Linked DNA regions of Homo sapiens: region 2 is linked to region 1. Evidence: fine-mapped expression QTL. A gene starts in region 1. The other region holds a variant in brackets. All regions are shown on one strand. Distances are between the middles of the regions.

Region 1 (16,680 bases):
GCATAACAGATACCCTAGTGGCAATCGATACACCCAGTGTCCAGATCAGCTCTTGGTTTCTAAGACCACTTCCTAACCAAAGAAACCCAGGGCAGGCTGAAAGAGCCTCCAATAGCTAAAACTGTAACAACTTTAGCAAGAAGAAGAATTCCAAGTAGCTTAGATGGATGGATTCTTCCCCTTTAAGGAGATGCGGCATAACTCCCCACCTCTTAAGTGTGGTGTATTAGTCTGTTCTCATGCTGCTGATAGAGACATTACCCAAGACTGGGTAATTTATAAAGAAAAAAGTGGTTTAATGGACCCACAGTTCCATGTGGCTGGGGAGGCCTCACAATCATGGGGGAAGGCAAAAGGCACATCTTACATGGCGGCAGACAAGAGAGGACCAAACGACAGGGGTTTCCCCTTATAGAACCATCAGGTCTCACGAGACTTATTCACTACTAGGAGAACAGTATGGGGGAAACCATCCCCATGATTCAAGTATCTCCCACCGGGTCCCTCCCACCACATGTGGGAATTATGGGAGCCACAATTCAAGATGAGATTTGGGTGGGGACACAGCCAAACCGTATCATGTGGGTTGTACATAGAGACTTCTTTTTAAAGAATATAGTACAGCCGGGCATGGTGGCTCACGCCTGTAATCCTAGCACTTTGGGAAGCCGAGGTGGGTGGATCTCAAGGTCAGGAGATCCAGACCATCTTGGCCAACATGGTGAAACCCCATCTCTACTAAAATACAAAAAATTAGCCGGATGTGGTGGTGGGTACCTGTAATCCCAGCTACTCTGGAGGCTGAGGCAGGGGAATCACTTGAACCCAGGAGGTGGAGGTTGCAGTGAGCCGAGATCGTGCCACTGCACTCTAGCCTGGCGACAGAGCGAGACTCCATCTCAATGTATAGTATAGTATGCTATAGTATCGTATAGTATAGTATACAATACTATAGTATAAAAAGGGGTAGGGATTAACTTCAGAGTGGAGAAACCAGCCAGACACCTAAGCTAGGAGATCAAGGCCAACATGGGTAGCAAGTGGTAGCATATGATATGATGGGAAGGGCACCTTTCCTTCGTGGTCTTCCTCCTCAAAGCCCCAGTCTCGCAATGAGATAAACGTCACACAAACCCAACATGAATGATGTCCCACAAATACCTGACCAGTGCTTCTCAAAACGTTCAAGATCACTGAAAACAAGGAAATCCTGAGAGTGGTCCTAGTTTAGAGAACTCAATGGAGACACAGCAATGAAACCCAGTGGGGGATCCTAGATGAGGTCCAGGCACATAAAAAGGATATTAGGGGCCAGGTGCAGTGGCTCACGCCTGTCATCCCAGCACTTTGGGAGGCTAAGGCAGGCAGATCACGAGGTCAGGAGTTTGAGACCAGCCTGACCAAGATGGTGAAACCCCATCTCTACTAAAAATATTAAAAAATTAGCCGGGCGTGGTGGCAGGTGTCTGTAGTCTCAGCTACTCAGGAGGCTGAGGCAGGAGAGTCACTTGAACCCGGGAGGCAGAGGTTGCAGTGAGCTGAGATCGCACCATTGCACTCCAGCCTGGGCAACAGAGCGAGACTCCATCTCAAAAAAAAAAAAAAAAGGATATTAGGTAAAAAGGGGGGAATCTGAAGAAAGAATAATCTTAGTTAATAATCTATTAATACTGGTTTATTAGTTATGACAAATGTACCATGGTAACGAAAGTCGTTACTAGAGAAATGTGGCACAGGATTTATGGGAACTCTCTGCACTATTTTTGCAAACTTTTCTGTGTCTAAAACAAGTCTAAAATTTTAAAAGATACTAAAAACATAGGGCAAATAGTTATTCATATTAGATATATAAAAATCAACACATTTTATGAATATTTATGGAATCCTACACACAAGAGAACATTCTTTTCAAGCATACGTGGAACATTCATGATAATCAATTAGCTTGTAATTATGCTCATGATAATCAATTATGCTCTGAGCTTTAAAGGAAATCATAATTCAAAAACAAAAAGCCAACAGTAGCAAAGTCATCTTCTTTGTCTTAAGGGCAATGAAATTAGAGATCAATAGCAAAGTCAATAAAAGGGTTAAGTTATACAGTGGAAAATAAAAATAAAGCTGTTTTATTCATGGGTGGCCATTAGGCAGAATGTTGCTGCCCCCCCCTCAAATAAAATAGGTAATTTGGAGAAAAATTTAAAAAAAATTTAATAGCATCTAAGATCCAAAAATTAGGGGAAAGTAGCCAGGCGCCTATAGCCCCAGCTACTCAGGAGGCTGAGGCATGAGAATCTCTTGAACCTGGGAGGTGGGGGTTACAGTGAGCCAAGATTGTGCCACTGCACTCCAGCCTGGGTGACAGAACAAGACTGTCTCAAAATAAATAAATAAAACCCACAAAAATTAGGGAAAATTATTAAGCAGTATTCGGAATGAGAATATGATGATGGAAAGGTGACCTTCATGGCTTCTCCCCTGCGTGCTTTTGCCAATAGTCTTAAAAAGCCTACTTTTAGTAAAATCTTAATTATAGGAACATGTATCTGAGTCCTGAGGCCACCACTGAGCACCTAAGGCAATACTTCTCCAAGGAACATCAGCACCAACTGGTAACTTGCTATGCAAATCCCCAGGTCCTTCCCTAGACACACTAAATGCTGAGGGTAGGGCACAGCCATCTGTTAATTTTGGGCAAATAGTTAGTGATGATATTAGATATATAATATCAGTTATATATCTGTTATATAACATCAGTTATATATAATGTCAGTTAATTTTGACGCATGCCCAGATTTGAAAACCACTGACTTAAAGAATGACTTTGGGCAAGAACATTGCTGGTGCTTTGCTCTGAGACCATCTTGGAGAAGCAGGCAACTAGAGTTGGACTTTTCTTGATGTGGAGACAGTGTCAAGATCAGAGTGTACCAAAACAGAGATATAGACTAATGGAACAGAACAGAGCCCTCGGAAATAATGCCGCATATCTACAACTATCTGATCTTTGACAGACCTGACAAAAACAAGCAATGGGGAAAGGATTCCCTATTTAATAAATGGTGCTGGGAAAACTGGCTAGCCGTAAGTAGAAAGCTGAAACTGGATCCCTTCCTTATACCTTATACAAAAATTAATTCAAGATGGATTAGAGACTTACATGTTAGACCTAAAACCAGAAAAACCCTAGAAGAAAACCTAGGCATTACCATTCAGGACATAGGCATGGCCAAGGACTTCATGTCTAAAACACCAAGCAATGGCAACAAAAGACAAAATTGACAAATGGGATCTAATTAAACTAAAGAGCTTCTGCACAGCAAAAGAAACCACCATCAGAGTGATCAGGCAACCTACAGAATGGGAGAAAATTTTCGCAACCTACTCATCTGACAAAGGGCTAATATCCAGAATCTACAATGAACTCAAACAAATTTACAAGAAAAAAACAACCCCATCAAAAAGTGGGCAAAGGATATAAACAGACACTTCTCAAAAGAAGACATTTATGCAGCCAAAAAACACATGAAAAAATGCTCATCATCACTGGCCATCAGAGAAATGCAAATCAAAACCACAATGAGATACCATCTCACACCAGTTAGAATGGTGATCATTAAAAAGTCAGGAAACAACAGGTGCTGGAGAGGATGTGGAGAAATAGGAACACTTTTACACTGTTGGTGGGACTGTAAACTAGTTCAACCATTGTGGAAGTCGGTGTGGTGATTCCTCAGGGATCTAGAACTAGAAATACCATTTGACCCAGCCATCCCATTATTAGGTATATACCCAAAGGATTATAAATCATGCTGCTATAAAGACACATGCACACGTATGTTTATTGCAGCACTATTCACAATAGCAAAGACTTGGAACCAACCCAAATGTCCAACAATGATAGACTGGATTAAGAAAATGTGGCACATATACACCATGGAATACTATGCGGCCATAAAAAATGATGAGTTCATGTCCTTTGTGGGGACATGGATGAAGCTGGAAACCATCATTCTCAGCAAACTATTGCAAGGACAAAAAACCAAACACTGCATGTTCTCACTCATAGGTGGGAATTGAACAATGAGAACACATGGACACAGGAAGGGGAACATCACACACTGGGGACTGTTATGGGGTGGGGGGAGGGGGGAGGGATAGCATTAGGAGATGTACCTAATGCTAAATGACGAGTTAATGGGTGCAGCACACCAACATGGCACATGTATACATATGTAACAAACCTGCACGTTGTGCACATGTACCCTAAAACTTAAAGTATAATAATTAAAAAAAAGTGTAGCCTCTTGCCACAGGCTGAAATATTAATACCTCCGGCTCTGGGAAGAGATCCTCTGAAAGTGAGGGGAAAGACTGCATTCAGATTGGCTACAGATGGAACTTTAAATATTCCCCCAAACACACACACACATGCATACACACACGCACACACACTCCTCTACCACCACTACCACCACAAAAATCACCAGGGACTCTTTTCTGCATCCAATGTATGTCCCCCTGCAAAAGTTACATGCTGAAGTATGAAGTTTTTGAAAATAGCATACTCGTAGATACAATGAGTTACACTGGAGGTCACAAAGTGCAACTGAAGTCTGGGCTTGTTTGGAAATAGCATCCTTGCAGATGCAATTAGCTGTACTGGAACATGTAAGATGAGGTCATACTAAAGCAGGGTGGGCCCCCGATCCAATATAATTGGTGACCTTATTGAAAGAGGAAAATCTGGCCGGGCACAGTAGCTCACACCTGTAATCCCAGCACTTTGGGAGGCCAAGGTGGGCGGATCACCTGAGGTCAGGAGATCAAGACCAGCCTGGCCAACATGGTAAAATCCCATCTCTACCAAAAATACAAAACTTAGCCAAGTGGTGGTATGTGCCTGTCTTCCCAGCTACTCAGGAGGCTGAGGCAGGAGAATTGCTTGAACCCGGGAGGTTACAGTGAGCTGAGATCATGCCACTGCACTCCAGCCTGGGCAATAAAGTGAGACTCCATCTCGAAAAATAAAAAGAAAAAAGAAAGGGGAAAATCTGGACACATATGAATAGAGGGAAGAGGATACCATGCCACAGGGAAAATGCCACTTACTAACCAAAGCACACCTAAAGCAAGTAGAAGTTAATAGAGAGGAATAAACTGATTCTCCCTCACAGTCTTCAGAAGAAATTACGCCTGCCAGCACCTTGATTTTGGACTTATTAGCCTTCAGAACTGTGAGACAGTAAGTTTCTGTTGCTTAAGCTGTCTGTTTTGTGGTATGTTGTTACAGCAGCCCCAGGAAGCTAATACAATGTGTTAGTATCAGATTTGACAGAGATAATTAGTGGTCTAGAAGACACGTAAAGAGAAGTCATCCAAGAAGAGAGAGATAAAAAGATGAAAAGCACAGAAGAGAGGACAAGAGACTAAGGATGAAAAGGGCTAACACTTGTTACTGGCTCCCCAAAAGGAGAAAAGAGACTGTGGACCAGATGTAGTATGTTTTATTAGGTTGGTGCAAAAGTAATTGTGGTTTTTGCCATGAAAAAAATGCAAAAACCGCAATTACTTTTGTACCAACCTAATATAAGATTGCTACTAGGATGTTTCTTTTTATAATTTTTTTAATTGAGACAGTTTCACTCTTGTTGCCCAGGCTGGAGTGCAGTGGCACAATCTTAGCTCACTGCAAACTCCACCTCCCAGGTTCAAGTGATTCTCCTGCCTCAGCCTCCTGAGCAGCTGGGATCACAGGTGCCCATCACCACGCCTGGCTAATTTTTTGTATTTTTAGTAGAGACAGGGTTTCACCATGTTGGCCAGGCTGGTCTCGAACTCCTGACCTCAGGAGATCCACCCGCCTCTGCCTCCCAAACTGCTAGGATTACAGGTGTGTGAGCCACTGTGCCTGGCCTGGATGTTTCTATTAACCAATGAAAAAAAAATCAATCTACTAATTAAGAAGCCCAATAAAGTCCAAGAGTATAAATAACAAACCCATGTCTAGACACATTATAGGGAAACATAATGACATTAGAACATAAAGAAGTTACACAAAAGGGAAAATCTTGAAAGCATTCCAGAGTGGGGGTAAGGCAAGGGGAGGACAATAATTTATTTGAACGGTTGTGCCATTATGTTGACAGCTGACCTGATCAGGTGCTACAGAAAGAAGAAACTAAAGAAGCAACCATGCAAGGTGCTCAAAACAAATAGCTGCTGACTCAAGTCTAACCAGAATAAAATAATCTTTAAGAAATAAGGCCAGGCACGGTGGCTGACGCCTGTAATCCCAGCACTTTGGGAGGCCGAGGTGGGCGGATCACGAGGTCAGGAGATCAAGACCATCCTGGCTAACACGGTGAAACCCCATCTCTACTAAATACACAAAAAATTAGCCGGGCGTGGTGGCGGGCACCTGTAGTCTCAGCTACTGGGGAGGCTGAGGCAGGAGAACGGCGTGAACCCGGGAGGCAGAGCTTGCAGTGAGCTGAGATCGCACCTCTCCACTCCAGCCTGGGTGACAGAGCAACACTCCATCTCAAAAATAAAAATAAAATAAAAAGAAATAAAAGTAGACATTTGCAGATAAATGACAAATTTTCCAACAGAAGACTTACACTATAGGAAATTTTGAAAATTGACCATTGGAGAGAAGGAAAATTATTGCAGGTGAAAATTAAGAGATGCCACAGTCAATTAGAAGACAAGTTGCTTTATAGAGTCAGTCTTGTGAGACAGAAAATAGAATTAAAATTTATCACAGCTGGCACGTAAATCTAAAAAAAAAAGAAAAAGGACATCAAGTGCTCTAATGTTCTTCTCTGGGAAGATGACAGAAGTAAAAATTTGATAAGAAATTCTGATAAGCCCACTGATAGAATTCTGATATAACCATAAAAAAGTTTGTCTGCCAAAGTAAATAGAGAAGAGGAAAAATGACAAACTAACCTAAAAAATAAAGAAGGACAGAAATAGGAACCTAGAACAGATAAGGTAAATAAAAAAGTGATGGTCAACTCGAACTCTTATTAGTAATTACACAGAATAATTGCCTCAATGGTACAGAGGCAAAGATGGTGAGACTAAATACAAAAACCAAATACTTGCTCTTTAAAGAGGTAACTAAGAACGGAAAAACGAAAGTTGAAAGACTAAACATGCAAATTTGAACCTAAAAAATCTGGGGTAACTCACCCCGTTAGAATGGCTAAAGAAAATAACAAATGTTGGCAAGGATGCAGAGAAAAGGCAACTCTTACACACCATTGGTAGGAATGTAAGTTAGCAGAACCACTATGGAAAACAGTATGGAGGTTTCTAAAACAATTAAGAATAGAACCTACCATATAACCCAGTAATTCTACTGCTGGGTATATACCTCTTTAAAAAAGGAAATTCGTATGTCAAAGAGATATCCTTACTTCCATGTCTATTGCAGCACCTTTTTTTTCTTGAGACAGAGTCTCGCACTATCACCCAGGCTGGAGTGCAGTGGTACGATCTCGGCTCACTGCAACCTCTGCCTCCCAGGTTCACACCATTCTCCTGCCTCAGCTTCCCAAGTATCTGGTACTACAGGTGCCTGCCACCATGCCCGGCTAACTTTTTTTTGTATTTTTAATAGAGATGGGGTTTCACCATGTTAGCCAGGATGGTCTCAATCTCCTGACCTCGTGATCTGCCTGCCTCGGCCTCCCAAAGTGCTGGGATTACAGGCATGAGCCACCGCACCCGGCCTGCAGCACTATTACTAATAACCAAGATATAGAAACAAACTAAGTGCCTATCAATAAATGAATGCATAAAGAAAATGTGGTATATATACTCAATGGAATATTATTTAGCCATAAAAAATAATGAAATCTTGCCATTTGTGGCAACCTGGATGAACGTGGAGGACACGAGGTAAAATAAGGCAGGCACAGAAAGAAAACTACCATATGATCTCATTTATATGGGGAATCTAAAAAGATGAACTTATAGAAGTAGAGAGTAGAACAGTGGTTACTAGAGGCTGGGGAAGGGATGGGAGAGTAACGGGAGACCAGGAGCGATTGGTCAACAGGCACGCTTACAGTTAGAAAGCGCAAGTTCTAGTGTTCTCTTACAAATTAGGGTAACTAAAGCAAATAACAGTGTGGCGGATATTTCAAAATAGCTAGAAGATTTTGAGTATCACTACAAAGAAATGTGTCTAAACAAACAGATATGATAATTACCCTGATTGGATCATTATACAATGGATATATGTGTCCAAACATCACACTGTATCCCATAAATATGTACAATTATATGTCAATTTAAGAAATTTTTAAATGGGAAATCTGAACAAAATAGCATGTCATGCATACGTAAGGTATGATAACCCATCTTACTCACCAAACTCTTCATCCATTCCATTTATTGCACGACTTGAATTAGAAGGAAAAGATATTGAATTATTCCAGGCTTTTAAAAAAATCTGTTGTCATAATATTGATACCAGAAAAGCAGACCCCAAGCCAAAACATTGGTGAGAAATCTAGATGCTGCATAACCACAGGGCTCAAATTACCAGGAAGAGAGAACAATTATAATCATACATGCAACAATAACACAGCCTTAAAATATACGAATGATCAGCCGGGTGCTGTGGCTCACGCCTATAATCCCAGCACTTTGGGAGGCCGAGGTGGGCGGATCACGAGGTCAGGAGATCTAGACCAGCCTGGCTAACATGGTAAAACCCCGTCTCTACTAAAAATACCAAAAAATAAAAAATAATAAATTAGCTGGGCGTGGTGGCAGGCACCTGTAATCCCAGCTACTCGGGAGGCTGAGGCAGGAGAATTGCTTGAACCCGGGAGGCAAAGCTTGCAGTGAGCTGAGATGGCACCACTGCATTCCAGCCTGGGCAACAGAGCAAGACTCTGTCTCAAAAAGAAAAAAGAAAATATGTATACACACACACACACACACACACACACACACACATACACATACACATATGTCTATACACACACACCCCCGACAATGGTCAGCACCATAAGGAGAATTAGGTAAGTCCCTAATCATAGCAGGATATTTTATCAATTTGTTCCAGCAATTAAACAAACAAGTTAAAAAGAAAATAAAGGGCTTAAAAACAATGGAAAAATTTTACCTTGTGGACACAGACCTTTTCATTCAATAAATGGAAAAAACACTATAAGATAGACGAATCAGCTACCAATGTCAGCTATATACTGATCCTCAGGGCAAGCTTCAACATATTTCAAATAATATAAGTTACACAGAATATTCTGATCATAATTTAAGTCAGAATTTGACAATGAAATGAAGGACATTCCAAAATTAAGAAACATACTTCTAAGTAATCTATGAATAAAGAGAAAATATCGGATATAAGATTTTGAACTGAATATTTAATGTTGCATATGAAGTGAGTGAAATACAGCTAAATCAGGAGCTGGAAAAATGTGCTACTTCAAAGGCATAAGGAAGGTTGAAAATTCATAAACTAATTATACATTTAGATAAAAAGCAAAACACACCAAAAGAAAGTAGAAAAAATAATCAATGAAATAAAAATTAAAATACAAGACTCTGTCAAAAGTAGATTCTTTGAAAATACAAACTGGATAACCCCCAACAAGTCTGATGAATAAGAAGACATGAGCAATTAATACCAGAAACAGAAGACACCACTACATACCCTACAGATATCAAAAATTGAGACTATTACCATTTTTATGCCAATAAAACTGATAATTTTGTTCAAATATATAAATTCTTAGAAAATGACAACTTTCATCTATTTTGTGTGTGTGAAGTTTTGAAAGCTTTTTTTTTTTTTTTTAACTCTTCCCCCACAGAAGACTTCAGGCTCAAACATCTTCATCAGCAAATTATGTCAAAATTTAAATAAAAATTATTTTTCCAGAATCTAAGAGAGAGCATGTGTGTGGGTATGTGTGTGTGAGAGCATAAGCATGTGTGTATATGTGTGTGAAAGAGCACACACACACACTCAAACTGAGGCATAGGTTAGATAATGAAAACAGGTTTACATCATCCTCAGCAAATTAACACTGGAACAGAAAACCAAACACTGCATGTTCTCACACAGAAGTGTGAGTTGAACAATAAGAACACAAACGGACACAGGGAGGGGAACATTCACACACTGAGGCCCGTGGGTGAGGGGTGGGAAAGGGGAGGGAGAGCATTAGGACAAATACCTAATGCATGTGGGGCTTAAAACCTAGATGACCAGTTGACAGGTGCAGCAAACCACCATGCCACGTGTACACCTATGTAACAAACCTGCACATTCAGCACATGTATCCCAAAACTTAAATTTAAAAAAAGAAAAAAAAAAAACAGGCTTAGTGTAAGAATTTCCATGTTCGGTCTACTTGTGAAAACAAATGCAAAAATTAAAAAGTCCATTAAGTGTAAGATCTGTACATTAGATAATATCATTCTATTAATTTCCTGTTTTTTATATAGTGTGGTTATCAAAAGAGCTTACTTTTATTTTTATTTTTAGAAGATAAACCCTGAAGCATTTAGGGTAAATTATTAGATGTAAATTTGTACAATGTGTACAAATCTTGAACAGATCAGGAAAAATACTTATATAAGAGTAGAGGGACACCATATAAGGTAAACTTTTAACATTTGGTGATCCTAAGGATATATTCTTGAAGCTGTTCTCTAAGTGTAAAATCACATCATTTTTTTCTTTTAATAGCGTACTAGCTTCCTTGGGCTGGCATGACAACGTACCACAAACTAGGTAACTTAAAACAGAAACCTACTGTCTCATGGTTCTGGAGCCTAGATGTCCAAAATCAAAGTGTTGGCAGGGTGCTGCTCTCTCTGAAACCCAGGGGAGCCCTTCCTTGCCTCTTACTGGCTTCTGTGGTTTGCTGGCAACCTGTGTCACTCTTTGGTTTGCAGCTATGTAATTTCACTCTGACTTTGTCACATGCCATTCTGCTTGTCTCTACCTTCATGTGGCCATTTTTTCTAAGATGGAGTTTCACTCTTGTTGCCCAGGCTGGAATGCAATGGCGCAATCTTGGCTCACTGCAACCTCTGCCTCCCAGGTTCAAGCAATCCTCCTGCCTCAGCCTCCTGAGTAGCTGGGATTACAGGCATGCGCCACCACAGTTGGCTAATTTTTTGTATTTCACCATGTTGGTCAGGCTGGTCTCGAACCCCCAACCTCGGGTGATCCACCCGCCTCGGCCTCCCAAAGTGCTGGGATTATAGGTGTGAGCCACTGCATCCAGCTTGAGACCGAGTCTCATTCTGTCACCCAGGCTGGAGTGCAATGGTGCAATCTCGGCACACTGCAATCTCCACCTCCTGGGTTCAGGCAATTCTCCTGCCTCAGCCTCCTGAGTAGCTGGGATTACAGGCACCTGCCACCATACCCAGCTGATTTTTGTATTTTTAGTAGAGACAGGGTTTTGCCATGTTTTCCAGGCTTGTCTTAAACTCCTGAGCTCAGATGATCCACCCACCTCAACCTCCCAAAGTGCTGGTGTTACAGGCATGAGCCACCACACCCAGCCGCATGTGGCCGTTTTCATAAGGACACCCGTCATTAAGTTAGGGGGGCCACTCACTCCAGTATGACCTCGCCTTAACTAATTACATCTGCAACAACCTTATTTTGTCACCCTATAAAGGGGTTAGGACTTTGTGTGTGTGTGTGTGTTTTTAGGGTTGGGACACAATTCAACCCTTAACAGTAAAAACCAACTTTTATTGATATAGAAAGATAAATATTCTTTCTATATACGTTTCATAGTCTAAACAAATGGCATAATTGGAGAAGGGGGATGAAAAGAGGTTGGCTAATGGATACCAAGTTACACCTGTAGGTAGGAATAGGTGCTGGTGTTCAGTAGCACTATAGGTTGAATATACTTAATATCTTATTATTTTCGAGGGTTTTTCTAACTTTTATGTTAGGTTCAGGGGTACATATACACTGGTTATACAGGTAAACTCGTGTCACAGGGGTTTGGTGTACAGTTTTTCATCTCCCAGGTATTAAGAATAGGACCCCATAGCTATCTTTTCCTGACCCTCTCCCTCCTCCCACCTAAGGAGAGGATTCTGAATGTTCCTAACACAAAGAAATGATACAGGTATGAGGAGATGGATATGCTCATTACCCTGATTTAATGATACGTATACATGTACCAACACATCTCTCTGCAGCTAATATACATAATTAGTATGAGTCAACTAGAAGTGTGATTTTCTTTTTAAATCACATTCTGGAATTACAGTATCAAAGACGTTTCTGCCCTAGGTCAGAGAGCAAGCTCACAAGAGCAGAGAGGGCTTGGGTCCCACCTTTCATGGGAAGTCCCCCCCCTTACCTCATCCCTGTCTATGTTCTCCAGCTTCTCCTACATGTTTGTGTCAACAGAGATGAAGAATCTAATAAGAACATTCCCACCCTCGAAGCTCCAAGGTCTCCCTTCGTGACGAGTCTCCCCCACCTCCACCCCCCATTCTTCTCACAGGTCTCAGGCTCCTGGGAGGCACCTTATAAACACAGGGCGTTCATCTACCCCACTAACTGGAGAGAAGGAAAACGCTGGGTAAATAGAATGGAGAGGCCTGGCTGTGATCGATCAGCCTCAAGAAAGGAGACAGGGTAAAAGGGAGAAAGAAAAGGAAGACCCAAAGTAACCCAGGAAATCAGCACATAGAAGAGACGAACAGCCCAGCACGAAGCGCTGACTCACCGCTCCACGCCTTCCTGGTCCTTAATGATTGGCGGCTGGAAGCGGGAAGAAAAGATCCGTGGTGCCATTTGATTGGCCAACGAATTGCTCCCTTGCCATTGGCTCAGAGGGCTTTTGATGAACAGATCCAGAAAATATGTGAAGCGAAACGCCCACCGCCCCTTGAGGGGCTGTTCTAGACCTTTGCTCCTGGTGTCGTATAGAGCGGGGGATATTTCAAGCTGGAGGTTCCTATTGAGAATTCCCAGGGCTCACGGCTGCAGGGATGCTCCTCCAGTCTCTCCAAAATGGTTCATTTGGAGAGTTGGGGTGACTCTGTTTATAATTTAAATGTCTAATTCCTTCCTACATGCTAAACTCCTTGAAGAATGTTCGTGTGGCACAACATCTTTCTGCCGTAACTAAACCTGTCGTGCAAGAAGAAATTATTAATTATTATTAGATACGGTCTCACTCGGTCACCCAGGCTGGAGTGCAGTGGCGTCATCTCGGCCCACTGTAACCTCCACCTCCCGGGTTCAAGAGATTCTCCTGCCTCAGCCTGCTGAGTAGCTGGGATTACAGATGCACACCACCATGCCCGGCTAATTTTTGTATTTTCAGTAGAGACGGGCTTTCGCCATGTTGGCCAGGCTGGTCTCGAACCCTTGACCTCAAGTGATCTGCCCGCCTCGGCCTCCCGAAGTGCTGGGATTACAGGCATGAGCCACTGTGCCTGGCCTCGGCTAATTTTTGTATTTTCAGTAGAGACAGGGTTTCACCATGTTGGCCAGGCTGGTCTCGAACCCTTGACCTCAAGTGTTCTGACCGCCTCGGCCTCCCAAAGTGCCGGAATTACAGGCATGAGCCACTGTGCCTGGCCTCGGCTAATTTTTGTATTTTCAGTAGAGACAGGGTTTCACCATGTTGGCCAGGCTGGTCTCGAACCCTTGACCTCAAGTGATCTGCCCGCCTCGGCCTCCCAAAGTGCCGGGATTACAGGCATGAGCCACTGTGCCTGGCCTCGGCTAATTTTTGTATTTTCAGTAGAGACAGGGTTTCACCATGTTGGCCAGGCTGGTCTCGAACCCTTGACCTCAAGTGATCTGCCCGCCTCGGCCTCCCAAAGTGCTGGGATTACAGGCATGAGCCACTGTGCCTGGCCTGCAAGAAGAACTTAATGGATATCGGCTACTGTCTTTCTGCGTAGGCAGAACAGGCGCTAAGTTTTTTAGACGCAAGGTCGAGATTTCATCATTGGGCATGGTTTTCCTGCTATTCCAGCTTCCCTACAATCGTTACAGTCATCTTCTGGGTTCACGCCAAACCTCAGTGTCCTAGGAGCTATCCTTTTACAATCACCATTTTAGTTCCTCCTTATAAGAATCCTGAGTTCAGTGTTACGATGGTGATGATCCTGGTTTTGAAATATACACATCAAGGAGTGCAGAGAAACATAATGAGAACTTTAAGGAATTACTGTAACCATAACACAAGTCTCTGTGGTCCAGAACCTAGATTGGGAAGCAGACATGATGGGGACCTTTGCAGACTCATGTACCCATAAGAGCATGCCCGTTGCATCCTCAGGGGTTCCCACCAAAATAAATTTCCAGTTGTGAAGTGAACTTCATTCCCTTCGATTTTCTTTTTATTTTTCCTGGTGATACATGTTCCCCTAAGAGATATGTTTTGTTTTCCTCATTTTCGAATTATAGTGTATCATTCTGTGACTTGATTCTTTTCACTTATTATGTTTTTGAGATTAATCAATGCGAGTTTGTTATAGCTGCGGTTCATTTCTAGGTCTTGCCTCACGGTATTTAAATGTATGACTAGGTCACCATTTAATGATCCATTCTGTCAGTGATAGGTGGTTGGGTGGTTTCTCAGTTTTTGCCAATATGAACAATGCTGTTTTGAACCTTCTTGCACACATCAGTGAGCCCACAGGACTTTTGGATTACCTGAGTGGAATGACTGAGTCCCTGAGGCACAGGTGACTTCAGTTGCCTCTTCAGAAGTGGTTTCACTAATTACATTAGCATCATGCACAGTTGAATATCCCCATAGCTGCACCTTACTGCCTACTCCTGATGTTGTTGACATTTTAAAGTAGTCACCAAATATTAGTTGGAAAAAGTATTTTGTTGTTTTCATTTGCTTTTATCTGATTATTAATATACTTGAACATTGTTCTCATGTTTGTGAGCCATTTGTTGCCTCTTTTGTGAAATACCTTTTCATTGTTTTCCTTGTATTTCTATTGGTTGTGTTCTGTTTTTATTTGCATGAAGAAGTGCTTTACCTTTTCTGAAAAAGTGGTTTGGTCAGTTATGTGTGATGCACGTATTTTCATATATCTCCTCCTAGTTTGTGGTTTGTAGCTTTTGTTATATAAGAACCATTCACTGAAGAGTTTTTATTTTAAATGAAATCAAATTGATCAAAATGTACTTTATGTTTTATAAATGTGAGGTCTTGTTGACAAAAATCATTCCCTACTCCAACTCATGAAGATATCTAATATTGCCTTTTAAAATATGATAGAGTTTTGAATTTCACACAGAAGTATTAAGTCACTTGTAATTATTTTTCTCTAAGGTAGGGAGAAGGGATCCATTTTTTTTTTTTCATTTAAATACAAATGGCACCAGCTCCATTTAATGAATAGTTCACCTACGCCACTGCCCAGAAATCTGTTATAAACCAGCTTTTCGTATTTGCCTACATTGGTTTCTGGGTTCTATGTTTTTTTCACTATTATTTGTTCATCCGTGTGCCAATAAGTCTTTTTTTTTTTTTTTTTTTTTTTTTTGAGACGGAGTCGCTCTGTCGCCCAGGCTGGAGTGCGGTGGCCTGATCTCGGCTCACTGCAAGCTCCTCCTCCCGGGCTCAAGTAATTCTCCTGCCTCAGCCTCCCGAGTAGCTGGGACTACAGGCGCCCGCCACCACACCTGGCTAAATTTTTTTATATTTTTGGTAGAGACGGGGGTTTCACCGTGTTAGCCAGGATGGTCTCGATCTTCTGACCTTCTGATCTGCCCGCTTCAGCCTCCCAAAGTGCTGGGATTACAGGCATGAGCCACCGCCCCCGGCCAACCAATAAGTCTTAATTACCATAGTTTTTAAATTAAATCTTTATAGGGTAGGTCCAACTCAATCATCATTCCCACCTCCCACCCACCTATGTGCTTCAGGCGTCTCTTGGCTTGTACTAGTCCCTTCTATTTTCCACATACATTTCAGAATTATATTTTGATATGAAAATTTCTATTGGGATTTTATTGTTTTACTGAATATAAAGGTCTATTTGGGAGCATATTAACATCTTCATAATAATAATTCCTGTACAAGAATGTAATGTTATCCTTCATTTTTAAGGATTTTGTATATGGCAATAACATTGTATATCATTCAATAAGATTTACAATCTCTTATAAGAATTATTTCTAGTTTATATTTTTCTTGGAACTGCATGTGGCATCCTTTAAAATTTTAAATTCCAATTAGTTTTTTTTTAGAGAAACACAATCAGATTTGTATGTTGATTTATATTCACCAAAGCTGCTTTGAATCCTAACAATTTATCAATAGATTTAAGGGGAGAGAGTTTGCATGGATATTCAAATTATCTCCAATATGATAATTTCGCCTCTTTCTTTCAGATCCGTTTTCTTGTCCCAGTGAACAGGTGCACTATGTTGAAATAAGAGTGGTGACGGAGGCCTTGTTTATCTTGTATCTTATTGTAAAAGGTATTCTTTCATCACTTTCCCGTCCATTATGAGATTTTTGTTTGCTCTTGCTTTTTTGGAACCCTTTACTGGGTGAAGGAAATTCTTTTATTTCCTAACTTACAAAGATACATCTAAAACCATGAATAGATATAGACTCTTTTATATTTCCCCTTTTGCACCTATGAAGATGCCCCTATTCT
Region 2 (16,680 bases), 40 kb before region 1:
TGATAAGACAAAAATAAAGGCTCTGAGGCATAGAAAGTGTCAACCTGAGTTAGCTGCAGGACAAGAGAGGTAAACCCTCTAATACACAAAGGATTGGATGCTATGGGTTGAGACTTAAGATTGCTGCTCAAGGAGACTTGAAATAAATTTTCTCCAGAAAGTAAAAGTCTTCCTTCTCTATTCTGCAGATGTGCAGGACATGGAGGTAGAATGGGACCCTGTTTACAGGAATAATATTCAGGTTAATACAAAACCATCGTAAGGACCACCTCCCTTTCGCTTATTTTATCCATCTGAAATAGTTTTGTTGTTTTCTTTTTTGAGACAGAGTCTCGCTCTGTTGCCAGGCTGGAGTGCAGTGGTGCAATCTTGGCTCACTGCAACCTCCACCTCCCGGGTTCAAGTGATTCTCCTTCCTCAGCCTCCCGAGTAGCTGGGATTACAGGCACACACCACTATGCCCAGCTGATTTTTGTATTATTTTTAGTAGAGATGGGGCTTCACCATGTTGGCCAGGATAGTCTCGATCTCTTGACTTTCTGATCCACCCACCTTGGCCTCCCAAAGTGCTGGGATTACAGGCGTGAGCCACCACGCCCGGCCAAAATAAAGTTTTTCTTAATCAGTTTGGTTGTTAGATGCCAATGATGTGGTCTTCCGTCCTTCCTCCATGAACTCACCACCACTCTGTCCTATCCATTTGCACAGAAATATGGTCTGCCTCCGGCCACAGACTCTGTCTTTACACCCCAGGATAATTCCTTATTTTGTTACTTTTGGGTCAGTCACTTCCCCTCTCTGGACCTAATTACCTCATCTTCAAAATGATGAGGACAGAAATAATTTGTAATTAAATTAGACCCAATTTTGGCTTTCACTTCTGCCTTTGTTAGCTCTGTGGCTGTGTAACACTTCTAAAATGTACTTTACTCACCTGAAAATATAAAACTGTATCCCGCACAGGATATGTGAAATCGATGTGTCATGGATGGAAATCTCTATGAAGAATAAGATCTTATTAAGTTGTAATTTTCTCTCCCCCGCTCTAACACCAAGAGTCTTTCTTGTACTATTTTATTATTCAATAAGCAGACGCTATCAGAAGCAGTCTTACAGAATAGCTGGAGATCCATTTAGCATTTCATAGCTTATAAAACACCTTCCTAGAGGGTCTAAATCCCCATCAAAGCCCTGTAAGATAGGATAGCCTTACTTTACTGATTTAAAAGCAAAGATACCAAAAGAAAATGCTTTACAACAGATTACAGAGATAGTAAGTCAAACTGGCCTATAAATCCAACTTTTCTATTTTAAGATCTGACCCACTTTACAACACCTGATGGGATCTTTCAATAAGTTGAAGGCTATAATCCTTCTATCCATCCATGTTCTCACTATTAGACATAGTAAAACCCAGAGTCCTTGAAATAAATACTTCATTCTCTTCCTTTTTCTATATCTTTACTGCCCTTTGTAGATGAAATCTGGGATAGAAAGAGTGGGAGACGTATGTGAACTAATTTAGAAAATATTGTCAGGGCAATAAAGGTTAAAAATAAAATCAAAGGTTAATTGCCTTAATCTTCATCTCATTGATTCATATTCAGTTACCAGCTATTAAAATGGGCCATATTTTATTTTGAGACAGGGTCTCACTCTGTCACCCAGGCTGGAGTGCAGTGGCACCATCTCGGCTCACTGCAACCTCTGCCTCCCAGGCTCAAGGGATCCTGCCACTTCAGCCTCCCGAGTAGCTGGGACTACAGGTGTGTGCCACCATGTAACTTTTTTTAGTAGAGATGAGGTTTTGCCATGTTGCCCAGGCTGGTCTCAAACTTCTGAGCTCAACCGATCCTCCAGCCTTGGCCTCCCAGAGTGCTGGGATTACAGGCGTGAGCCACCAAACCTGGCCAACCATGTTATTTCTGATAATCTGACAAGATAAATAAAGACTATCCCAAGATTTCTCCATTGTTTCTTTAAAAATAACAGAGATGGGCTGGGCACGGTGGCTCACACCTGTAATCCCAGCACTCTGGGAGGCCGAGGTAGGCAGATCACGAGGTCAGGAGATTGAGACCATCCTGGCCAACATGGTGAAACCCCGTCTCTACTAAAATACAAAAAAAAAATTAGCCAGGTGTGGTGGTGCGCACCTGTAGTCCCACTTACTCAGAAGGCTGAGTCAGAGGAATTGCTTGAACCCGGGAGGTGGAGGTTGCAGTGAGCAGAGATCATGCCACTGCATTCCAGCCTGGTGACAGAGCGAGACTCTGTCTCAGAGAAAAAAAACAACAACAACAAACAAAAAACCAGGGATGGCCTGGCATGGTGGCTCACACCTGTAATCCCAGCACTTCAGGAGGCCGAGGTGGGCAGATCACAAGGTCAAGAGATTGAGACCATCCTGGCCAACATGGTGAAACCCTGTCTCTACTAAAAATATAAAAATTAGCTGGGCATGGTGGCAGGCACCTGTAGTCCCAGCTACTCAGGAGGCTGAGGCAGGAGAATTGCTTGAACCCAGGAGGCAGAGGCTGCAGTGAGCTGAGATCGCGCCACTGTACTCCAGACTGGTGACAGAGCGAGACTTCATCTCAAAAAACAGACAAAAACACAGGGATATCCTCTGTTTAATGCTTGATCCACAAATTCTCAATTACTAAATTTTCAATTTACTAATCAATACTCAAGTCAATCATATTTAGTCTACTCAATTACTAATTTAGGAATTTTTTTTGTTGTTATTCTACAATTTCTAAGTTTGTCCTAGAATTCAATTACATCAAAGTATCTTAAAGCAACATTTTTTTAGAGTAGACAGATGATTTCAAATCCACTGTACAGTCAGGCCAATGTTACTTTGTAGGACTGGGGGGGCCCATAATAGGTCTTGGAGGGGGTTTGGAAGGGGTAATTGGTGATTCAGGAAAAGAGAAGAGATGAGATAGAAGGGATTCCAGTGTACCTTGACTGCTGAACTTTTTTCTAGGCTGCCTCCAAATTATGAAGCCCGTGAACCAAGACAGACCAATTAGCTTGTGACCAATTGTCTAACTTCAAGCCTATACTTATGAGGAAGGTAGACGGATTATTTGTGTCTCCAGCTTCATTTACCTTTCCTCCCTCTCCTTTTACCCACCCTGCTTGCTGTCTTTTTTGACACTCACTTCCTCACCCACCACCTTGCAATTTTTTTTTAAGACAGTCTCGCTCTGTTGCCCAGGCTGGAGCACAATGGTGCAATCTCAGCTCACTGCAACCTCCACCTCCTGGGTTCCAGTGATTCTCCTGCCTCAGCCTCCTCAGTAGCTGGGACTACAGGTGTGTTCCACCGTGTCCGGCTAATTTTTGTATTTTTAGTAGAGACGGGGTTTCACCATGTTGGCCAGGCTGGTCTCGAACTCCTGACCTCATGATCCACCTGCCTCAGCCTCCCAAAATGCTGGGATTACAGGCGTGAGCCACTGCACCCGGCCAACCATGCAATCTTAAAAGCTTGGCTAGATGTGCCCAGGACTAATGTGTGGCTGAGGTGAGTCAAGCTTGGTGCACAGCTCAGGTTATGAGAGACAGAGGTGGTAGAGTGCTGAAACAGCCCAGGAGATCCTTGGACTGAAGAAGAGACAGATGGAATTCCAGGAATAATGAACTTGGGTGGAAAAGGATTCCCAGGGTGAAGGCAGCCAGAGTGACAGCTTCTTAGCTTGGAAGCAGTTACTTGTACCCTTTAGGCCAATTTTCCCATTACAAGAAGGGTCTTATAGCATCAACCTCAGATTTTGCAAGAATTGAAATAACATATAAAATATTCAGCTTGTGGTAAGCACCTGTCAATGTATTAATAGCTCTTGGGTGAATAATCTCCTTCAATTCTGTCATTAAGATTCTTTACTTGTAACTTAGACTTTTTATAGCTTAGTACCTCTTTTTTTGTGATTAAAAAAAAAAAGTTTTTCAGACAGTGCCTTGCTGTGTCACCCAGACTAGAGTGTAGTGGTGTGATCGCGGCTCACTGCGGCCTCAACCTCCCAGGATCAAGTGGTCTTCCTTCCCCAGCCTCCTGAGTAGCTGGGACCACAGGCATGAGTCGCCACGCCCAGATAATTAAAAAATAATAATAATAATAATTCTAGATAGATATAGATAGATAGATAGATAGATAGATAGATAGATAGATAGATAGATAGATAGATAGTAGAGGTAGGGTCTCTCTATGTTGCCCAAGCTGGTCTCTAACTCCTGGGCTCAAGCGATCCTCCTGACTTGGCCTCCCGAGGTGCTGGGATTACAGGCGTAAACCACTGTGCTGGGCAGCTCAGTACCCGTTCTCTATCAGCACTTCCTTCTCCCTCTTTTCTACTGACCTGTATTTTTAGTGGAGGGAAAACCGTTAGGAGAAAAATGTTAATGTTCCTGCTGGGGGTGGAAATGGACATCTCATGAACATAATTAAGGTAGCTGGAGAATAGGTTCTTTGGTTCCTCAAGCTGCTTTTATATTTTATCACGTCTATTGCACCCAGGTGCAATAGATAGTCCTTAATCATTACCACTTTACAGATGACAGACTAAATGACTTCCCAGATTTTCCTGTTTGTTATTTTTCTTTCCACACTTTTTTTGAGATGGAGTTTCACTCCTGTTGCCCAGGCTGGAGTGCAATGGTATGATCTCTGCCTGCTGCAACCTCTGCCTCCTGGGTTCAAGCGATTCTCCTGCCTCAGCCTCCCGAGTAGCTGGGATTCCAGGCATGCACCACCACCACGCCCGGCTAATTTTTTGTATTTTTAATAAAGACAGGATTTTTCCACGTTGGTCAGGCTGGTCTCAAACTCCTGACCTCAGGTGATCCACCTGCCTCGGCCTCCCAAAGTGCTGGGAATACAGGCATGAGCCACTGCACCCAGCCTCCCCACTTTCTTTTTATTGTGGTAAAACATGCGTAACAAAATTTTACCATTTTAACCCATTTAAAGTGTACATCCCTGTGGCCTTGAGCACACTCACATTTTACAACCATCACCACCATCCATCTCCAGAACTTTTCCATCTTGCAAAACAAACTCTATGCTCATTAAATAACTCCATCTTCTCCTCCTTCCCCTGGCCTCTGGTAGCCAACATTTTACTTTTTGCCTCTATGAATTTGGCTACTGTAAGTACCTCATAGAAGGAGAATGTACGGTATTTGCTCTTTTGTGACTGGCTTATTTCATTTAGCATAATATCCTCAAGGTTCATCTATGTTGTGTCATATATCAGCATGTCCTTCCTTTTGAAGACTCAGTATTTCATTTTATTTATATGCCACATTTTGTTTATCCATTCACCCATTGATGGACATTCAGGTTGCTGATTTTCTCAATCTTCACTCCTAAATCAGTGGCACAGAAGTTCAGAAGTGAGGCCGGGCACGGTGGCTCACGCCTGTAATTGCAGCACTTTGGGAGGCCAAGGAGGACAGATCATGAGGTCAGGAGTTCTAGACCAGCCTGACCAACATGGTGAAACCCCGTCTCTACTAAAAATAGTAAAATTAGCCATGTGTGGTGGCACGCGCCTGTAATCCCAGCTACTCGGGAGGCTGAGGCAGGAGAATTGCTTGAACCCGGGAGGTGGAGGGTGCAGTGGGCAAAGATCGCACCACTGCAATCTAGCCTGGGTGACAGAGCGAGGATCTGTCTCCAAAAAAAAAAAAAAAAAAATTCAGAAGTGAAATACCCCCATTCCTAAAATTTCCTTTCAGCTCCCACTCCCAAGAGATCTTTATTCAAAGGTAGGGGAGACAGGGTAGCCTCAGAACTCAAGAGGCCCAATGAGGAAAGGAGAGCCAGAGGGGAGTTTGGGGAAGAATATGAGAGGCAAAGACCGTGAGGAGAGGTAATATTAGCAATGCCATGGAAATTACCCAAACATTCACATGAACCCCAAAATATATACCACTATTATGTACCAATAAAAAAGGTGCTTTCATCAGGCAAGAACAGATCAGGAGCCCAACCTGGAATCCTAGTAGGACTGGCAGAAAGAAGGGTGCCCAAGTCAGACCAGCCTTTCTAGTGCTTTCAGTGTGGCCAGCGTCTTTCCAAGTCAACACGGGGAGGGGGCCACAGTTTCTTCAACCTGCACTCCTATTCCAGTCATTCATCAGTAGCAAACACTGTTTCAAGATTTTCCAGGCAGTATGGAGATTTCCCAAAGAACTAAACATAGAGCTACCATTTTGTCCGGCAACCTCACTACCGAGTTCTATCCAAAGCAAGAGAAATCATACTAAAAAGATACCTGCATCCATGTGTTTACTGGAGCACTCTCCACAATAGCAAAGTCATGGGATCAACATAAGTGTCCACCAGCAGATGAGTGGATCAAGAAAACATGATTTATAGACAGTGGAATCCTATTCAGCCATAAAAAGAATAAAATCATGTCTTTTGCAGCAACATGGATGGAACTCAAGCCATGATCTTAAGTGAGATAACTCAGAAACTAAGTCAAATAATGCATGTTCTTACTTGTATGTGAGAGCTAAATAATATATAAAGAGTGGCTGGATGCAGTGGCTCACGCCTGTAATCCCACCACTGTGAAAGGCTGAGGCAGGTGGATCACCTGAGGTCGGGAGTTCAAGACCAGCCTGACCAACATGGAGAAACCCCATCTCTACTTAAAAAAAAAAAAAAAAAAATACAAAATTAGCCAGGCGTGGTGGTGCATGCCTGTAATCCCAGCTACTCAGGAGGCTGAGGCAGGAGAAATCGCTTGAACCCAGGAGGCGGAGGTTGTGGTGAGCCGCGATTGCACCATTGCACTCCAGCCTGGGCAACAAGAGCGAAAATCTATCTCAAAAAAAAAAAAAAAGTGTGGAATAGTAGACATTGGAGGCTCAGGAGGGTGAGAGGGAGGTGCAGGGTGAGAACTGACCTAATGGGTACAATGTACACTATCTGTGTGATAGGTATACTAAAAGCCCAGATTTTCCCACACAATATATACATGTAACAAAACCATACTCGTACCCCTTAAATTTATACAAATAAAAAAAGGCAAAAAAAGAATTTCCAATGTTTAGAAATGTAACACTTTATTGAGGGGTTAAGAGGTCCTTGTGAGACCGAGAGACCATGAAGGCCTTTCAGTGACTCATCCAAGGCCACAGAGCACATAAAAACCACGTGTATCATATCAAATCTATGAATGGGGTGCCAGAAATCTCACAACTCAGAGTATCAATGATTTGTATCTCCTGGGTGCAGTGTCATGTAAGTAACGGTCCCAGTCCCTGTCCTTTGCAGGTGTTCGAGTCAGAGCCCAGGTTCCTCGCAATCAGATCTCTACCCTTGTGATTGTGTCACAGTC[G/A]TCTGTGATGGTCAGGTTAGGATTTCTCTCTTCCTCAGCCGTCAGAAGTGCCTGGGTTTCCTCATCAAAATCAGTTTTTCTCAGCCTGGTAAAATATTTTAAGAGGTTCTATTTTTAATTCACATACTTTTTCCCTTTTCTGCAGCTCATCTTTCTCCCTAATTCATCCCAGGACAAGCCTAGGAAACCCTGGTGTTACCTCCAAGAGGAAAGACATACACATCAAATGCAGCGGTATGCTGATAAATGTTACCCCTGGATCCCCAGAAAATAAATAAAGTCCCAATTTATAGCTTTGCCAATTTCTGTGGTGTAAATTCTCCAAGGCAATCATGGCCAATTTTGAGCTGCCCACTTGCTGTCACTAAACAGAGTTACAAAGACAGGTACACACACACACACACACACACACACACACGTGGCTCTCACCAGCTTGTAGGAGCTGGCTCCAATATGTCACTGGACATAAATAAATGTCCAGAATTGGTAATAGAAGGCATGAACTCCACACAAACATTTGGATTTGCAACAAGAAGTCAGTGGGAGTTAGGGAGAAAGACTGAAGCTATTTTTACTTTTTCAAAGATAAAGTTAATAGTTTCCATTATCCGAGTACCTGGGCCCTGGCCCTCTGCTAAGGCTTTTTACATGCCTATCTCATTAAATGTTCACAACTGCCTTATGAGGTAGCATAATTGTCCCGACTTGTGATGAAGACAATGAGAACAATGTTAAGGTCACAAAACCAGAAAGTGGTAGTCTGGATACAAATTCAAGCAATTTGTTTCTGGAGCCCCCATACGTTGTATCATTGCTTTGAATCAGAAGGATTAAGTATCACCGTGTCTTGGTCCTTCCTTTTACGTATAATATCTCTCATCTCCATTTGGCATCTGTTTGCGTGCAACTGTCCCACACTGTTGGGGTAAGCTATGTTCTTTAGCACAACTATGTATCTTAATACACATCTTTGTGAGACTATCTATGGTAGGGGCTGGAGGAAGATGAAAACTCACTTATTTAGTTCTGCCATAGTTATCACATTATCTGATGCATACTTTCATAATTACCATGCCAAATAATCATCCCTATTTTGTAGATAGGAGGCTGATAATCAAAGAGGACAAATGCCTTACCCTGGCTTACAGGGCCAAACATGGCAAGGCTAGGAGACAAACACAGACCTCCGTGACTCAGAATGCAGACAATTTGAGTCCTTCCCCTTAATCACGTGTCTACTTTGGTAGTCTACATTCTGAATCTTTAGCAAACATTAAAATGAGAAAGAAACAATGCCAAGCACTCAGCCTTTCCAGGTGGAGATTTATAAGGATGGACTTCAAGAAAACAAACCTGTATCTTCACAAAATGGAAAAAAAAAAATCAGTGAATGTTCTTTAGCGTTAGAGTTATAACAGTTTTAACCCATTATATTTCCCTTTTCTGGAAATGAACAGCCTAATAACTGCCTATGATTACCTTCATCTCATATTGGTTTGAAAACAGTAGGGGAAAATGAATGAGAAAAATGTTAAGGACTCTATAGTTATCTAGTAAAATAATGTTTGTGGGATTATATGTAATTATAAATATAACAAATTAAAATATAAATTATGTTTATATAAGTTTCTATTTATAAATGTTATACTTATGAATATACATATAACTTGTATTTACACATAAATATTTAAAATATAAACATGTATCATAATTTGTATTATAATAATAAGTGATATAGGAGGTAAAAAATTATTTAGGCAGATAGTGAGGGCAAAAGTCCTCAGCAGAGCTTCCCTTCTAACAAAAACCAGCCCAAGAAATCATTTCTTTTCTAACAAAGAGCATCCTGAAAAACTGAGCTGCAAACATAAATAAGGGAGCGCGAAGATTGCATGGGGGGAATGCCAGCAGCTGCGCCAGTGAAAAGAGCTACCTGGGGGCCAGGCCTGTTCACCATGGAAGCACCATCTTCCCTTTTTTATTAGCATGGGTACAGTAAGAAAGAAATGGGCAACATAGTGCAGCTCAGGCAGAGAACCTGCCTGCTTAATAAAAGACTGGGGTGGGGGCTGCCAGAAATTCACACCCTATGCAAACGGCACACCTGGTCCTAACCAGTTTTTCATGCCCTATGTAGATCAGACACCACACCTCCCACCAGCTCGTCTATAAAACCCTCTGCATTTCACCATGGATCGGGCAATCCATTTTTCCGAGACCCCTCTCTGTAGCAGACAGCTCTTCTTTCTTTTGCCTATTAAACTTCTGCTCTTAACCTCACTCTTTGTGTATCTGCGTCCTTGGATCTCTGCGTCCTTGGATCTCCACGGCCCTGGGACAATGAACCTCGGGTGTTACCCCAGACAATGAGGCCACTTCACAAGTGTTTCCATTTGTTGGACATTCACTGTTCACCACTTACTGTGGTAAGAGTTTTATACTCACCTGCTTGGTTCTTACTCCTGCAACAACCCTGAGACAAGGAACATCATTTGCATTTTAAATGCAACGTGATTACACTGCAGGTCCCAGCCAATCCCTTCTTAGCCCGGAGCACTCTGCCCATAGAGCACAACAGACCCCAGCTCACCCGAGCACCTGCAGGGCACACTCTGGGTGTCTCAGGGCCTCACAGAGTACAACCACCCCTGTGTGGTCCAAGGTGTTCAAGGTCAGGTTGAGCTGCTGCAGGGTCTTACTGCAGGTGAGAACAGACGCGAGATCCTTACAGCAGGTGCTCGTTAACCCACATTCTTCCAACCTGCAATAAAAAGACACATGGTAAGATGCGGCCCCAGCCTCAGGGTGGAGGTAGGATGGGATGTGAGCTAGACGTCTAGTTGAGGCACACCCCATTGCCTCAAGTGCAATCTCTCACAGTCCAGTGTTTACGACCTCAGATCACGCGTCTGTGGGTAGGTGGTAAAAGTAGCCATAAGTGTCCATTCTTCTCTGTATCCCTGCCCACAGCAATGTGACTTTGCAGCTCATTCCACTAACAGAGTCTATTTCCGGCTTCATACCTTGCTTTGGATAATATAACATATTATCCAAAAAAAGGTATGAAGCCGTCTCAGATAACAATGGAAGCAAGATTAGGAGAGTTCTGAGCCACCATTTTGGGTGTTTTTCTTCTTTGGAGATGGGGTCTCTGTCATCCTGGCTGAAGTGCAGCAGCATGACCATGGCTCACTGCAGCCTTGACCTGCTGGGTTCTAGCAATTTTCCTGCCTCAGCCTCCTGAGTAGCTGGGACTACAGGCATGCACCACGCCTGCGGGCTAATTTTTGTGGAGATGGGGTTTCTGTCATCCCGGCTGAAGTGCAGTGGCATGATCATGGCTCATTGCAGCCTTGACCTCCTGGGTTCTAGCAATTTTCCTTCCTCAGCCTCCTGAGTAACTGGGGCTACAGGCATGCACCACGCCTGGCTAATTTTTATGGAGATGGGGTTTTACCATGTTGCCCAGCCTGTTCTTGAACTCCTAGCCTCAAGCTATTGGCTTGCCTCAGGCTCCTTTAGTGCTGGGACTGCAGGACTAAGCTATCACACCTGGTGATCTTGGATGTTTTCTATACTTCATCTCTTGAACTCCTGAGATGCTGCTATGGGCTCATTTCTGTCCCTGCCAAAATTTATACGTTGAAGTCCTAAACCCCAGTACCCCAAAATGTGATCATATTTGGATACAAGGTCTTTATAGAGGCAATTAAGCTAAAATGAGGACACTGGGGGGATTCTAATCATATGACTGGTGTTCTTATAAGAGGAAATTTAGACACACACACACAGAGGGAAGAGAACATGAAGACACAGGGAGAAGACAGATGGTTATCGACAAGACAAGAAGGGCCTGAAGCAGATTCTCCCTCATGGCCTTCAGAAGGAGCCAACTCTGCTGACACTTTGATCTCAGACTTTCAGCCTCCATAACCGTGAAGTGATAAATTCATTACCTAAGCCACCCAGTCCATGCTACTTTTTAAACCCTGGCAAACTGATACAGATGCCATGTCAATGAGCCCAGGCCAACCAGTTAGATAATGAGACGTGGCCCAGTTACACCTGTCATCCCCAAGGGGACAGCCAACCCAGCCAGCCAACCTCCATACCATATAGCAAGGTCAACCCAAACCAGCCAATCCCTCAGTTAACCACAGCTTCCTAAGCACACCTGGCTGAGGTCAGTGACGCCTGCCCAGACAAGCAGAGCCAGCAGCAATCTAACTTCTCATTGCCTTAAGCCCTGAAGTTTTACACTGGTTCATGATGCAACCACAGCTAGCTGCTATGTGGTCCTGTTGGAGTTTTCATCTTTCTCTTTCTTCCCATCCATTTTCCGTCTTTGCCACTCATGAAAACATAACCAGGAGCTTGGCGATACCCACCCAAGAATCTCTAAGCGGCAATCCGTATGCGTCAGAGCCCGACACAACAGCTGCACACCCACATCTCCGATTTCATTGCACCCAATTTGCAGAATCTTCAGGTTTTGATTGCTGATGAGAGCAGAGGCGAGGTCTTCACAGCCAGCAGCAGTGATAAAACATTTTACCAAACTGCAAAGGAGTAAGGGTACCATGCTTAAAGGCTATTACACCTCAGTCTAATATCAGGAAAAGAGACACCAAAGCACGACAGCCTTTGTCATTCATGTGGATAGGCACCGTCAGTCCTCCATATCCACAGATTCAACTAGTGGCAGATTGAAATTATTGAAGAATTAAAACAATAACACATAACACGCAACACTAAAAAATACAAACGAAAAAACCAATAGAGTATAACAACTGTTCACACAACATTTACATTGTATTACATATCACAGTAACTTAGAGATGATTTACAGTATTATGGGAAGATGCCTGTACATTATATGCAAACACTATATAGGCCAGATGCGGTGGCTCATGCGTGTAATCCCAGCAGTTCGGGAGGCTGAGGTGGGTGGATCACCTGAGGTCAGAAGTTCCAGACCAGCCTGGCCAAAATGGTGAAACCCTCATCTCTACTAAAAAAAACACAAAAAATACAAAAAATTAGCCGGGCATGGCGATGCGTGCCTGTAGTCCCAGCTACCCAGGAGGTTGAGGCACAAGAATCACTTGAACTCGGGAAGCAGAGATTGCAGTGAGCTGAGATCGCACCACTGCACTCCAGCCTGGGCGACAAAGTGAGAGACTGTCTCAAAACACACACTATGCCATTTTACATTAGGAACTTGAGCATCTACAGATTTTGGACTCCTCAGGGGAAATCTGTAGCCAACCTCCTATGGATATGGAGGGACAACTGAATTGTCTCAGCATCGTTTGTTGGAGGTCTATCCTCTCTCTGCACCAGTGATACGCTATTCCATGATGCGACATCTGAACACACGTGGATCAGTCTGTTTCTGAGATCTCTATTCTGTGTCTCTGGTCTGTCTGCTTATCCCTGTGTGAATCTCATGCTTTTTTAATTTCTAAAACTTTAGATGACACATTTAGAGCAAGAGTTCCTACATTATTTTTATTTGAGACGGAGTTTCACTCCTGTTGTCCAGGCTGGAATGCAACGGCACAATCTCAGCTCACTGCAACCTCTGCCTCACGGGTTCAGGTGATTCTCCTGCCTCAGCCTCCTGAGTAGCTGGTATTACAGGCATCCACCATCATACCCAGCTAATTCTGTATTTTTTTTTTTTTCAGTAGAGACGGGGTTTCACTATGTTGGTCAAGCTGGTCTTGAACTCCTGACCTCAGGTGATCCACCCACCTGAGCCTCCCAAAGTGCTGAGATTACAGGCGTGAGCCACCGCGCCTGGCCCACTTTTTATATTTTAGGTGTTTCTTAGGTATTCTTGGCCTCTTGCAAGTTCCATACACATTTTAAAATTTACTTTTCAAGTTCAACTCAATCACCAAACAAAAACATCGCATTTTCACTGGGATTTCATGAAAGCAAATGAATTCAACTTACAGAAAACTGACTTTTTAGATACTGAATATTTCAATCTTTGAATATAACATTGTTTTATACCATAATTTGATCATATTCTCTATAAAAGTCTCACATATATCACAGTAGCTATTTCTAGGTAATTTCTTTTTTATGTTACTGTAAAAGGTACTTTTATTTAATTCCACTAGCTTATTACTTCTTGTTGGTATATCAGTAACTGTTTTTGATATATTGTTTCAAGCAAGCTTGTTAGACTAATTCTGATAACTTAGCTACAGATTTTCTTGGATTTTTCTATGTACATTCAAATCATCTGTATAGAATTAGGTGTTTCTTCAAAGATTACAGGTTTAGTGTTTTTCTTACCTTGAAGCATTTGCTAAGATTTTCAGGACACTGTTGACTAGAAGTGATTATAGCCACCGTTCTTATCTTTTTCATGATATTGAAGAGAAAGCTTTTCTCTCATCATTAGACAAATGTTTGCTTTAGATTTTTTTGAACATATTCTTTAGATCATCAAGGAAGTTCCCAAATAGTTTTTCAAGAATTGTATGTCTTAATTCAAACTTTTCTGCATTTTAGATCATGATTTTTATTTTTAACCAGTAAAGTGATTTACATTGATTTTTTTACTAATCTTTTTAATGTTAAAGCAACTTTACATTTTGGGGATAAGCCCAACTTAGTCATTATGTTTATTCTTTTAATACATTTATGGATTCTGCTTGCTAATATTCTGTTCAGTGTTTTTGCATTTCATGAATGACACTAGCCTTTAATTCTGCTTTCTTACAAAAATTGTAAGGATTATATTACAACCAATAAAATTCTTATTGGTTTCTGGCATCAAGATTATGCTAGCCACAAAAAATGGTGGGGAGTTTCTCCTCTTCTGATCCTGAAAAAGCTGATGTAAGAGTGGAATTATTTATTCTTTGAATGTCTGGTAAGAATCACCAATGAAGGCTTCTAAGCCTGGAATTTTCTATATAAAAAGATTTGACTGATTCATTTTTCTTTTGTCTTGAGTACATTTAGGTTCTATCATTTTAGAAGCTTATTGAGTCTTGAAAATATCTAAATTTTCAAGTTTATTGTGTAAAGTTGCTCATATGTAATCTTTTTAATATCTGTAGCATCTGTAGTAATGTTTCTTTTCCCATTCTTGACATAGACCTGCACTCTTCAGTGTGATAGCCAGCCACGTGTGACCACTGAGCACTTGGAATGTAGCTTGTCTGAATCTAGATGTGCCATAGTATAAAATACATAGTGAACCTTAGAGAGTTAATACAAAAAAGTAAAATCTCTCATTAGTAATTTTTTGTACTGATTACATATTGAAGTGATGTTTGATATATGGCTAAATAAACTATATTATTAAAATTAGTTTCAAATATTTACTTATAAAATTACTTTCAAATATTACATCACTTTTAATATGGCTACTTGAAAATTTAATATTACATGTGTGGCTTGCATTATATTCTATAGGATGGCATTAACAAAAACTGTTTTTTCCAAGAACCACCCTGCAGGTTTCTGATCTTTTCCATTGTGATTTTTGTTTCATTAGTTTCTGTCCTTATTTTTATTTCCTTCCATCCTTTAGGGGGTTTATTTTACCATTAAAAAAATCCTTAAGTTCATTATTCTTTAGATTCCTTTTAAAATATATACATGCACTACAGCTCCATCTGAGTTTGTTGCAAAGTATATTCCTTTTTCATTTCAACATATGTTCTAATTTCCATTATGATTTCTCTTAGATTCCTGGACTCTATATGGGAAGTAATTATGTTCACCTTGTAAGATTTAAAGTTCAACTGAGTAGGAAGATAATTTAAAAATTAGCATGAACCGAATAATACTTTGTCTTAAATTCTATTTTGTCTGATTCATACAGTTGCGTAAGCTTCCTTTTAATATTTGCGTGGTCTTTTTTTCTATCCTTTCATTTTCATCATTTTATTGAGGTAAAATTTACTTAAGATTAACTATATTAAAGTGAACAGTTCAGTGGCACTTACTACAGTTCACAATGTTGTACAACCACAACCTCACGTTTTAATAAGTAACTTATAAACATTAGTTACGTTTTAATATGGCAATCTTTTAGCTGAAACATTTAATCTGTTCGTTTAATTACTAGCATATTTGAATTCAAATATATATCTTGTTTCATATTTTCTTACCTGTTCAATTTTTGTTTCCTTGTTCTTTTTTGGATCGGGAATTTTTTAATCATTCTGTCTCCTCTTTTCTGCTAATTTGAGTATTCACCTTAATTTACCCCTTTATATTTTGTTATGGCTGTTGTATATTTTTTCCATTAAATCTTCAAGATGGTATTATTTTTATACACAATCCACATTTTGTTTAGATTTATCCAGAGATCTACCCCTCTCTTTGCTCTATCTCTCTTCCATCTGGAATGATTTACTTCTGTCTAAGGAACAGTCTTTAGAATTACTTTTAGGAAGGATCTGGTGGTAAGAAACTTGGTATTTATTTGAAAATGTGTTTTTATCCTCATTCTTGATAGTTTTTGGTGGCTATAGAATTCTAGGTTGACAATCCACCCTCCCGTCTCCCCGCCATACTGAATATCTCACTGTACTGCCCTCTGGTTTCCACTATTACTCTTCACCCAAGTCTGTCTCCTTTCTTGTAGATATCACTTTCCCCCGCCCCAAGCTCCCAGCCCCTTGTTAAATCTTTACAGACCAACATCTTTATATCTGGTGTTCTGCAGTTTCTCCACTATTTATCCTGTTAAGCGCTTATTTGGATGCTTGAATCTGAATTGGAATCTTTCATTGGTTACAGAAAAATTTCAGTCTTCTTAAAATATTTTCTCTTTCCGCGATTCCCAGTAAGTGTGTTAGAACATCTTAATCATCTAAGTCTTATACCCTCTTCTATGATTTACCTATTTTTCTGTTTTCATGCTGCTTTCTAGGTAATTGTAACCTATCTTCCATTTTACTAATTTTTTCTTTAATTATGTCTAATCTACTATTCACCCCATATAGTCAGTTATTATATTTATAATTTCTAGTTGTATTATTTGCTCATTTCATCTCCTTTTCCCTAAGATTCAAACTTGTTATTTTTCTGTAAACATAGTAAGTATAATAGCTTTATAGATAATTAGATAGTTTGGTAGCTGTTTGTATTTTGACTTGTCCTTGGCTCAATGAGCTTTATTTCCTTGTGGGTTGGGTTATTTTAACTGTGTGGTATTTACTGACCTTAAAAAATCCTTTTAGGAATAAGCTGAGGTCAAGGATCATGTCATCCTATTACCTACCTCCTGAGACAATTTGCTCTTGTTTCTTTCAGGCATCTGTTCAGTACTAGTTTAAGGTTA

What was found.
Region 2: its variant is fine-mapped to the expression of NLRP4 in testis (GTEx, PIP above 0.99).

The regions. Positions count from the first base shown.
Region 1 is chr19:55,832,644-55,849,323 of GRCh38, reverse strand. It overlaps NLRP4 (NLR family pyrin domain containing 4), which reads right to left and starts at 12,784. Exons shown (of 10, transcript NM_134444.5): 1 at 12,390-12,784. It also overlaps a transcript of NLRP11 not described here.
Region 2 is chr19:55,872,236-55,888,915 of GRCh38, reverse strand. NLRP4 (NLR family pyrin domain containing 4) reads right to left here. Exons shown (of 10, transcript NM_134444.5): 8 at 11,750-11,920; 9 at 9,952-10,122; 10 at 7,061-7,446. The coding sequence ends at 7,329. Among named protein-coding and RNA genes, the nearest start is that of NLRP4, 44 kb to the right of the region's middle. The variant G/A (reference allele first, on the strand shown) is at 7,362.